Linked DNA regions of Homo sapiens. The protein of the gene in region 3 interacts with the protein of the main gene of each other region in a biochemical or structural test. Each region holds a gene or a part of one and is shown on either strand. Other genes may lie near its edges. The genes, in order: IQGAP1, TRPV1 and AKAP5.

Region 1 (3,650 bases), on a different chromosome or scaffold from region 3:
TGGTTCACACCTGTAGTCCAGCTACTCGGGAGGCTGAGGCAGGAGAATCGCTTGAACCCAGGAGGCGGAGGTTGCAGTGAGCCAAGATCACGCCACTGCAGTCCAGCCTGAGTGAGAGTGAGACTCTGTCTCAAATTAAAAAAAAAAAAAAAAAAGAAACAAGGGTCTTAGATATGACATGACTCATCCAACCCTACAAAATGCCAGGACCCAACCATCTGCCCACCCCACTGGACCTTATCACACACCTATATGACTCAACTACATCTGCTCTAATAGCACTGCTGAATTAATTAACTTTTATTAAATGGTCTTCAACCTTACAGAGGCTCTTTATTCCTTATCTCTGCAGTGACAAATTCCCATCTAGTTTGTGAGTTCTAAATAATTTGGTCTCATGTTTTATTTCTCACTACTCACCTCCACCCACAGCTCCATTCTAGACATGTAGTCTAGTCGCATCATGCTCTTCCCTCCTTTGTACCTTTGTTCACATCGCTCTCCTGCCTCGAATGCCCTCTCTTGTCTTACATGCACACCCAAATCCTTTCCACCTTTATACATCTGGCTCCGGTTCCACTTCTTTTAGGAAGCTTCCTAATGCACTGCTTCACTGGCCTCTTTCCTGAAACTTCTCTTATTTTTCAGTCAGTAACATAGTTAATTTTGAAACAGTTCATCACTGTTTCAGGTATATATGTCACATTTCCCCAACAAGACCATGGGTTCACTGAGTTTAGGAGCCACATTCTGTACTTTTCTTCTATCTACCAAGGCATGTAACAGAATTCAAAATATATAATATTCAATAAATTGCAGTGAACCCTACACATTCATGGTTTCAACCAACCCTGAAACTGTTTGAAAAAAAAATACAACAATACAAAATAATACAAATTTTAAAAATACAGTAACAACTATTTACACAGCATTTATATTGTAGTAGGTATTATAAGTAGTCTAGAGATGATTTAAAGTATATGGGAGAACGTAAGTATATGCAAATACTACAACATTTTATTTATTTATTTATTTATTTATTTATTTATTATTATTTTTTGAGACGGAGTCTCGCTCTGTCGCCCAGGCTGGAGTGCAGTGGTGCGATCTTGGCTCAATGCAGGCTCCGCCTCCTGGGTACATGCCATTCTCCTGCCTCAGCCTCCCAAGTAGCTGGGACTACAGGCATCTACCACCTAGCCTGGCTAATTTTTTGTATTTTTAGTAGAGACGGGGTTTCACGTGTTAGCCAGGATGGTCACAATCTCCTGACCTCGTGAACTACCCACCTCAGCCTCCCAAAGTGCTGGGATTACAGGCATGAGCCACCATGCCCGGCCAAATACTACACCATTTTATATAAGGGACTTCAACATCTATGGATTTTGGTATTGGCCGGGGGTGGGGAGAATGGGTGCTGGAAAGAATCGCCTGTGGATACCAAGGGATGGATATACGGGATGGGCACAATGATTCTGCATGCAAGTGCCAGTGAGCTTCCTGTCCAAAGGACATCACCTGGACTCAGGAAGCAAAAACTTTCTCAGACGAGCCATAACTACCACTGTCCCCCAGTTACATTCATGCTCACCCCTAGGCTACCAACTGTTATTTGTGTCTCCCCTCCTTTCTCTGACATGCGCCTATCGGGAGAGCTTATCTACCAAACAAAGGAGTATGTTAGACCCTAAATTTTACCTGTTCACTGGTGGCTGGTGTTTCTAGGATTTCAGTCAAGGTCTCTCCTGGCTGGAACCGGATGACATCCACAATTAAACGTTTTGTACTGAAACGAGATGGGGGAGGCATTTAAATATTACCAGTGTTCTAGTTCCTCTCAAGTGGACCGAAGCAGCAGCAGCAGCAGCAGCACAAACAGTACCTCACAGAAGTCCCAAGCGGCAGCTGCCAGTACACAGTACTCAAGGCACAAGGCTTATTTACCCAGCCATTCCATAAGTAGGTACGAGGGTTAGGATTTCCAAGATTTACATTTCACTGTAGCATATTAGCAAAATAAGGCAGATAAGTCCTGTACCAAGTACAATATGCGAGGTGATTGGTGACTGGGATTATGACAAGTACGAGAGGTCAGGATGGTCATTTCAGGTAGGACCCAGCAGGTTCCTCTCCAAAGGCCAAGAAACCTTCAGATTACATTCATTTCATTCTTCCTTCTTTTGATACTCACTTCAGTAAGATGGTTCGAGCATCCATTTCTGCATTCTCATCTCCAGGCACGTCGAACTTGTTGGTCAGGGTGAGAGACACTTCCGTCTTAGCCAGTGCCTCCTTATTTGGGTCATTTAAATTGCCAGAGCTTTCCCCTGAAGTTTTGGGAGGGTGGAAAGAGTCAGCGTAATAAAGAGAGGAGATATTGGGGGGAAATAATACAAATATAAGATGATGCAAGTCTAAGATAATACTTGAATCACCTAACACATACAGTGTGACGAGAACAACTTTTACTGAGAAATAAAATGTTATGCCAAATGATAAAGGCAAGGGATCCATAATAACTCCATAAATGTTTGAGAAATCATTTCAACACTACAATATCACAATTCTCTCTGAAAACATTCTTTCTGGCTGGGTGCAGTGGCTCAGTCCTGCAATCCCAGCACTTTGGAAGGCTAAAGGAGGAGGATGGCTTGAGGCCAGGAGTTCGAGACCAGCCTGGGCAACATAGTGAGACTCCATCTCTATTAAAAAAAAAAAAAACAACTCAGGAGGATCACTTGAGCCTAGGAATTTGAGGCTGCAGTGAGCTATGACTGCACCACTGTACTTCAGCCTGGGCAACAGAGGGAGACCCTGTCTCATAACAAACAAACAAAAAAATTCTTTCCTTTAGAGGACTTTTAATTTATGTATCTGCAATTTTTTTAAAAAAACACAAGCTGGCAGTATGTATCTGCGTTTAAAATGATCTTTTCCTCTGACTCCAGTTCCTTATAGATATTGATCACATCTGGGCTTTTGTTGTTGTTGTTGTTTTCTCTCTTATGAAACTATCAGGATCACATCTATTTTATTTCTCAATGTATATCCAGAGTTTGGTATAGTGCAAAAAATAGAGGAGGTGACAATTACAACACTTTTCTGTCACATTCCCTTTTGATCTTCCAGGCAAAAGTTAGAACTCTACCTATCAGGGACTCGATGGTGGGCACCTCGCCGAGGTCGTCCAGCAGTTCGTGGATTGGATCATTGTGCTCCGGAGCAATGGCATCCTGGTGATCCAACAGGAGCTGCAAACACCAATGATCAACTCCATTTATACATTCAACTCTTCAGCCCGTCCCTCCCTAGAATGTCTAACAATGATCTGCACAAAGAGGTTCCAACAAAGTTCCTATATTCAAAGAAACAACAAGCAAATCCTCAGCAAACTAACCCAAATAAACAATATGATATATAAGGCACCACACCAGGCTCTGTTGAATGACTTATGTTATGATATAAGAAGAGGAAATACTGGTATTCTCTTAACCTCATGGCCATAAAGGATTCAAATGTGCCCTGTTTGAGAAAGAACACTGGCTGGGTGCAGTGGCTCACGTCTGTAATTCTAGCATTTTGGGAAGCCAAGGCGGGTGGATCACCTGAGGTCAGGCGTTCAAGACCAGCCTGGACAACATGATGAAACC
Region 2 (3,650 bases), on a different chromosome or scaffold from region 3:
CCAGGTTGGGATTATCCTAGCTACTTGGGAGGCTGAGGCAGGAGAATTGCTTGAACCTGGGAGGCAGAGTTTGCAGATCGCGCCACTGCACTCCAGCCTGGGCGACAGAACGAGACTCTATCTCAAAAAAAAAAAAAAAAAAAAAAGATGTGGACATGTGAAAAGAGCACAGGAGCCAGCTGGAAGGGACTCCAGTGACTAATCTCAGACAATTTGAGTATTAAAATAAAAGAGGATAGTAAGGATTATAACCCATTTAACAAAGTGAGAATCCATGAAAACAAAAGACTCCATGAGGCCATTCTGATACAAACAAATACATAGAAATGGGGAATGGTTAGCTCTTCTCTATAACAGAATGCCAGGTAATAAATGCAGAAGCAATGATGGAGTTAGAAGATCATCTTCTCTGGGTGTGGTGGCTCATGCCTGTAATCCCAGCACTTCGGGAGGCCAAGGCAGGCGGATCACCTGAGGTCAGGAGTTTGAGACCAGCCTGAGTAACATGGTAAAACCCCATCTGTACTAAAAATATAAAAATTAGCCGGGCGTGATGATGGGCAGCTGTGATCCCAGCTACCTGGAAGGCTGAGGCAGGAGAATTGCTTGAACCTGGGAGGCCGAGGTTGCAGTGAGCAGAGATGGCACCACTGCATGCCAGCCTGGGCGACAGACAGAGACTCCTTCTCAAGAAAAAAAAAAAAAATCATCATTTGGCCACCATCACAGGATGAAGTGATTCAGGTAAGACTCATCAACGGATGCTAGAACTCCTGGTGAAAGTCTGATGAGAAACAGGCTAGTCACATAGTTTCAAAGCATCTCCTTGAAAAGTATCCATCACAAAGGTAAATATAGTAGCTTTACAGTGGAAAAGTCTGGCAGATCCACCAAAACCAAGTCATCAAAGCTAACGTCACCAGAAGTGAGACGGACATCATGTGACTCCCAATAAAACACACAGCAGAAGACACACATGGCTTCTTGATATTCTGGCCAAAAATGCATGCCTGGCTATAATCGTGAGGAAACATCAGACACACCCAAATTGAGAAACATTGTCAAAACCACTGGCCTCTACTCATTACAAATTCTGAGGTCGCAAATGACAAGGAATGATGCAGGAAGTGCCCTGGATTAAAGAAGACTAAGGTCAGGCGCGGTGGCTCACCCTGTCATCCTAGCACTTTGGGAGCCGAGGCGGGCAGATCACTTGAGGTCAGGAGCTCAAGACCAACATGACAAAACCCCGTCTCTACTAAAAATACAAAAAAAAAAAATAGCCAGGTGTGGTGGCGGGCATCTGTAATCCCAGCTACTGGGGAGGCTGAGGCACAAGAATCACTTGAACCCTGGAAGTGGAGGTTGTAGTGAGCTGAGATGGCGCCACTGCACTCCAGCCTGGGCAACAGCATGAGACTCTGTCTCAAAAAATAATTAATGGCCAGGCACTGTGGCTCATGCCTGTAATCCCAGCACTTTGGGAGGCCAAGGTGGGTGGATCACCTCAGGTCAGGAGTTTGAGACCAGCCTGGCCAATATGGTAAAACCCCATCTCTATTAAAAATATAACAACTAGCCAGGTGCAGTGGCTCATGCCTGTAATCCCAGCACTTTGGGAGGCCGAGGCAGGCGGATCACGAGGTCAGGAGATCGAGACCATCCTGGCTAACATGGTGAAACCCCATCTCTACTAAAAATACAAAAAATTAGCCAGGCGTGGTAGCAGGCACTTGTAGTCCCAGGTACTCGGGAGGCTGAGGCAGGAGAATGGCGTGAACCCGGGAGGCGGAGCCTCCAGTGAGCCGAGATCGCGCCACTGCACGCCAGCCTGGGCAAGAGAGCTAGACTCTGTATGAGAAAAAAAAAAAAAAAATATATATATATATATATATATGCATAAAAACTAGCCGGGCATGGTCGTGGGCGCCTGTAATCCCAGCTACTTGGGAGGCTGAGGTAGGAGAATTGCTTGAACCCAGGAGGCAGAGGTTGCAGTGAGCCAAGGTCGTGCCACTGCACTCCAGCCTTGGCGACAGAGTGAGACTCCATCTCAAAAAAAAAAAAAAAAAAAAAAGTTGAAAAAACAACTGAGCCAAAATGCTATGTGGCAGCCACAGCACTTCCAGCCTGGAAAATTCTTAAAGCATTTTATATAACACGTGGCCAAGTCCTGGAGCTCATTTCAGTGTGTCCTCTGTCCACCCTCTCAGTCACCTGCAGACATGCACCTGCCTACCCAGTGCCTTCTCATTCAGCTCCTGGCAGAGTCTTCAGAAGGCTCAGCCAAGCAGGACCCCTGCCCTCCCCCAGCGCTGACCAAGCTCATTACCTGTGGAAAACCCGAACAAGAAGACGATGTAGACAAACATGAAACGGCACAGGTCTCTCAGGATCATCTGCAGGAGACAGCAGGCTCATCAGAGCCGAGGCCAGGCCCAGGAGGAGCTGAGGGAAGGGCCGGGCCGCATCGGCCTGGGGATGCGTCTTGAGAACGTGCAGGGCGGTTTGCTTTGCTGGTTCTCAGCTCAGGGGTCATGAGGGAGTCACCCACCCTTCCCCCATAGCCTTTGTTCTGGTCGGGAGATGGAGGCCTGGTGTGCAGGGGGGGTCAGGTTTCAGGGGACCCCCCTACACATACCTGGGTCAGGGCCAGATTGCTTGATTCTTGGAAAATAGGCTGGGGGGTAAACCAGCCCCTTCCCAGGCACGACAGAGAGGATGGGCGGAGTTCTTGGCCCCATCTCACATGACCACGAGGTAAGCGGGCTCTGAGGAGACCCACTGGGGCCCAGGGAACCCACCTTCTCTATCATGACGGCATAGATGCCCATCTGCTGGAAACCGCGGGTGTAGTAGAGCATGTTGGTCCAGCCCAAGGCCAGGGAGAATACCATGGAAGCCACATACTCCTTGAGGTGGCTGAAGTACAGCACCACGGTGGCCAGCATGAACAGTGACTGCAGAAAGCTGCGGGTGGAGGGGCAGAAAGCTCCGTCTACGGGAACCCAGGAGGCCTGGCACCCCCAGAACAAAAGGTCACAGGCCGCTCAGAGGTCCAGACTGCAGGCCGCAATAGGAGCTAGGGTTGGGCTGTCCTGACTCTTTCAGCCCAGGCGTTCTCCGTGGAAGCAGCATCGTCCCCAAGGAGCAGAAATTGGCTTGGTGAGGAGCTGTGCAAAATCTCACTCTTTATGTATAAAGCACAGATATAAATATAGTACCTAAAGGCCAGGCGCAGTAGCTCACGCCTTTAATCCCAGCTCTTTGGGAGGCTGAGGCATGCGGAGCACAAGGTCAGGAGTTCGAGGCCAGCCTGACCAACATGGTGAAGCCCCACCTCTACTAAAAATACAAAAAAAAATTTAGCCAGGCATGGTGGTGCACGCCTGTAATCCCAGCTACTCAGGAGGCTGAGGCAGGAGAATCACCTGAACCCGGGAGGCGGAGGTTACAGTGAGCCAAGATCATGCCACTGCACTCCAGCCTGGGAGACAGAGCGAGACTCCGTCTCAAATAAATAAATAAACAAATAAATAAACAAATAAATAAATAAATAAAAAGTACATAAAAGGATATATAGTGGCCAGGCGTGATGGCTCACACCTGTCATCCCAGAACTTTGGGAGGCAGATCACTTGAGGTCAGGA
Region 3 (4,372 bases):
AGAGAGATACGCAGACCATTTCGATAGACGTGTTTGCTGAGTGAACAAGGCTGACTGAATTTTTTTTTTTTTTTGAGGCAGGGTCTCACTTTGTTGCCCAGGCTGGCGTGCAGTGGTGCAGTAGTGGCTCACAGCAGCCTTGACCTTCTGGGCCCAAGTGATCCTCCCTTCTCAGCCTCCTGAGCTCCTGAGTAACTGGGACCATACGTGCACCACCATGCCCAGCTAATTTTTTAGATTTTTTTGTCTCCCTATGTTGCCCAGGCTGGTCTCAAACTCTTGGACTCAAGCCATCCTCCTGCCTTGGCCTCCCAAAGTGCTGGGATTACAGGTGTGAGCTACTGCGCCCATCCCTGAATTCTTAATTACAACTAAACTAGATGCTTATGGATTTTCCTGTTTTACAACTCTTGCCTCTTTTATCTGTAATTTTAAGATCTTGACAGCTTATATTTGGCTTTGCTTTTGTGTCTCAAGAGTTCTTTCCTTGATAAGCCTCTGTGGAAACTACAGAATCTTACAAATATAAAACATTTCCGGAAAAAATACAAAAATGGACACCTGACATTTACACTCCCTAAGGTCGTGATCCTGTTGAAGAAAGGAGATGAACGCGGCTGCTTTTCAGTAGTTCTTCACTTCACCTTACCAGGTTCTTCATCTGGATGCTATGCTATGGGGGCCAGAGGAGGAGGCTGGGATTGTGATGGATCCTACTAGATTTTACAGCTGGAGCTCCCAGGAATGCCCTCATAGGGAATGTCCTGAAGGGAATCATGGGTAACTTGTAAGCTACCTCAACTTATTTTTGGAACTATGTAAGGTATAAGATGGATGGAGCTGGGTTCCTGTGCCTTTCTCACCTTGTCCGCATAGAGATGCAGCTGCTCCTGCAGGCCAAAGTTCTGCACCAATCACCTCCACCTGCTTCCCACTGGGAGACAAAGGTTTGAAAGCCTGTTTGGCGATGAACCACGATGATCTGACACTCAAGCCACTCCTGAGAAAGTCGGGTTTCTTTCTGTTTCCATTTATATATGTAATTTTCGCTTCAAACAAACATGACCTCGCTATTCTATGCACAGTTTTGAATCCTGCTTTTAAAATGCGATGTCTGCCTTGTCTTTAAATATTCTGAGGGGGAGGAGAGGAGATGTGTAATGCGACTGTCTATAATTTGAAACCGGACCTCACTATTTAGCGTCTCAGAAAACGCGGGGTTCATTGCCCTGGTCCCCCCCGCCTTCCCCCGCCCCCCGAACCTTCCGGCTGGCTCTCTTGCGGTCCCCGCCTCGGCGCTGATGTGGTCTGGCAGTGGAGATTGGCGCCCGGGCGGAGCACGATGGGCTTCCCCGCGGCAGGCAGGCAGGCTGCTGCTGCAGGTGGGTCCCGGCGCCCGCGCCGCCCCGCGCCTCCGGCGGTCGCCCCGCCCCTGCCCGCCCGCTCCGCTCCGCTCGCATTGGCGCTGCCTGCTGTCTGTCCCCGCGCGGTGGGGAGGGGGCGCACCCGGCGGCGGGCTCTGCAGAGGGCGCCTTGCTCCGGGTGCGACCGCGGCTCCCTGGAGGCCTGGGCGGCGGGCCCCGCGAGCGCGCCGCCACCTCGGGAGCAGTGTTGGCCAAGGACCCCGACGCCCTACGTAAGTAAAGGCAGGGCGGGGAGCCTGCGGGGGAGGAGGGTCGGGGGCAATGTCCGGTCCGCGGACCGCGGAGTGGGCAAGAGGTGCCCACTGGATACGGGGTATCCGAGCCCTCTGAGGTGCTGGGAGTAAGAACGCGGGAGGTCGCTTGTCCGCTGGAATCCGCGGCCAGGGCGACCCTCATCAGGTCTGCCCACCTATCCCCTTCGCGTTACAGCTTGTCTTAGAAGCATGGGTTGCCGGTGGCTTTTTTCCTTCTTTATCCCTCTTTGAGAAATGTGATTTTGGGTTTCTGGCCATTACATTATAATTCTGCAGACAGCCTGAAGCTGGGTTATCTGTTCCACGCCCCCGGCATTTTCCTTTTTGAGTACTTTATCCTGCGCTCTGTCTCCTGCCATAAGGGGCGTCAAGCCAGAATTCGAGATTCCTTCCTCCAGGAGGAAGCTTCGTGGTCCGTATCTGGTGCTGGGAAAGATGCATTGCTTTCCTCGGGTACTGGCTGCTCAAGGGAAAAAGGAAAGGGGGTGTTTTCTGTGACATGAGACTTGCAATTCCATCAGGAAATGAGCACAGGGACTTTAAGATTTCCTGAGGCGATAAAGCTACCCTTGCTGGTTAAGAGCGAATCATTTGCAGTCTGACATTCTGCAAAGTTTTATTGTCTACAGACTGCATTATTTTCCCTCGTTAGTTAAGTTTCTGTTTGGGTATTCGTTTTATTTCTAGTATGTGAGATACATTCAAGTGAGCTTCTCAAACGATTGTCTTTGCGCAATCCAGGTTAGTTTCCAATGACAGACTCCTAAACATCTCATTTCAATATTTCTATTATGTGGTAATACAGCCTCTGCTTAACAAAAATGCTCAGGTGCTGAAAACTCACAAGAGGTGAGAAGATTTAAACAGTTATCAGCTTAGGTTCTAGTGCTCACTGAAACATTGTGAGGAGAAACACTGTCAAATGTTCATATTTTAGTTCCGTCATTGTTCTAGAATGACTTTATCTTTCTGTTAGAGGCACACAGTATGAAACACCCAACCTAAGATAATATTTACTTAGATCATAAACTGATTTTCAGGGTTCCAGTTCCTTCTACAGTTCATAAAATTATGGGTTACCCAAATGAAACTTCAGTGAAGGATTTACATAAAAACAATATAAAGAATGAGTCCCTTTGCTTATTTTAGGGCATCCACCCACTAAAATTCATAGGATCTTTGTTGGATAATCACCTCCCATTTCCATTCTTTGGTGCCATCATACCATTCTAAGGATTAAATTTTCAATACACCTTTATATTATCTAAGTTTGCCAATTGCATAGTTTGCCAACTTATTTTTGGCTTTTAAATTAGTTCCTGAACCAAAAAAATAAAATATAAAGAATTTCAAAAGCTTGGTTTTCAAATGACAAGAACTCAGTCTACTCGTGGTTCAATTATGAGTTGATAAGTGCCTTATGGTTAAATGACCATTAATCAATTTTTTAATTTTTTTACTAATGAAACACTGCAGATTAGTATCCCCAAACAATTCATTTTCTGACGAAACTCTTAAAGCCCAGTTTCAGAACATAAGCTTTAAGCAACAAGCAATCTTGTGTTAATCTGAGCTCTGTTACAGCTCTGCCGTAATCTCAGCCAAATTGCTTCATCTGTACGTGGTGATACCACCATCTTTGTAATATTGTGGTGAGGATTAGAGATGTATGTAAAAGTGCATGCACTGCCTAATACCCAAGAATTGCTCAATAAATGTCAGCTATTACTACTCTTACTGACTTCCAACTATGTGCAGATTATGGTGGAAACATGTGATACAGCAGATACAGTACTTAAATGAAAATGTCAAAATTGTACAACTAATTTAAGAGTGGGAAATGACAGTAATGCTAAATTTTCCTAAGAATATGTATGAAAAATAGCACTTCCTTGATGGAACATACATTTTTAGAACAGAAACCTTATGTTATAATGGTAAAACTAGAGAGTCAAAGTCTCTAGTTCTAACTCTGGCTATGACCTTATCTAGTTGCATGGCTTTTGACAAGACAACTGCTCCCCTCTGGAGTTCAGTTTTGTCATCTGGCTGGATTTGAGTAATCTCAAATAATCTCTAAAGTCCTTTGCAGCTTTAAAATTATCTATTGAGTGTGATAAAGATTACATCAGCTTGCTTTTCATCCTGCACTTCATTTTTGGTTCTTGTTGTTTGCTTAACTTGCACTTTAGAGTCATAAGCAATTCACACAGACAACACAACTAAAGAACTGATAATATCAGACTTGCAGGGTAATCCAAAATGAAGTTTCAACAAGGAGGATAAAACAAAATAGAATCACACTGAACTCTTTAATAGGGCCAAAGTAAACCCCAATGTTTATTCTCCAGTCATTTCATTAAGTTATTATATGGAAAATATGCCTGGTAGAATCTTATACATTCACTGAAATAGTCTCCACAGAAAATAATAGGCTCATAGTGAAATAAAATACCACTTTCTTTTCTCTCATCAGGTTGATCTTTAAATAAAGCAAAAATTTATCCAAAGAAGGGCTTTCATCAAGAAATTAAAGAGAGAAATTACAAGCCATAGAGAAACTGGGCATTTCTATACTAGAGAAACCACCTAAAACAACTGTATGGAGTAAGATGAAAGGTATGAATATGCCTGGAAGAAATTTTACCTAGTGTGACATTTTTGCTCATCTTTTTGTCACAAAAGGCTGCTAAG

What was found.
Region 1: the proteins of AKAP5 (region 3) and IQGAP1 form a complex in vitro, tested with the Homo sapiens proteins (one study listed by BioGRID).
Region 2: the proteins of AKAP5 (region 3) and TRPV1 form a complex in vitro, tested with the Homo sapiens proteins (one study listed by BioGRID).

Annotation. Positions count from the first base shown.
Region 1 is NC_000015.10:90,485,631-90,489,280, reverse strand, and holds part of IQGAP1 (ras GTPase-activating-like protein IQGAP1), read right to left. Parts: intron 3,252-3,650; coding exon 3,149-3,251; intron 2,328-3,148; coding exon 2,192-2,327; intron 1,787-2,191; coding exon 1,699-1,786; intron 1-1,698. UniProt on the Homo sapiens protein: Plays a crucial role in regulating the dynamics and assembly of the actin cytoskeleton.
Region 2 is NC_000017.11:3,574,794-3,578,443, forward strand, and holds part of TRPV1 (transient receptor potential cation channel subfamily V member 1), read right to left. Parts: intron 2,971-3,650; coding exon 2,805-2,970; intron 2,400-2,804; coding exon 2,333-2,399; intron 1-2,332.
Region 3 is NC_000014.9:64,463,978-64,468,349, forward strand, and holds the start of AKAP5 (A-kinase anchor protein 5), read left to right. Parts: upstream 1-1,521; 5' UTR 1,522-1,636; intron 1,637-4,154; 5' UTR 4,155-4,372. UniProt on the Homo sapiens protein: Multivalent scaffold protein that anchors the cAMP-dependent protein kinase/PKA to cytoskeletal and/or organelle-associated proteins, targeting the signal carried by cAMP to specific intracellular effectors.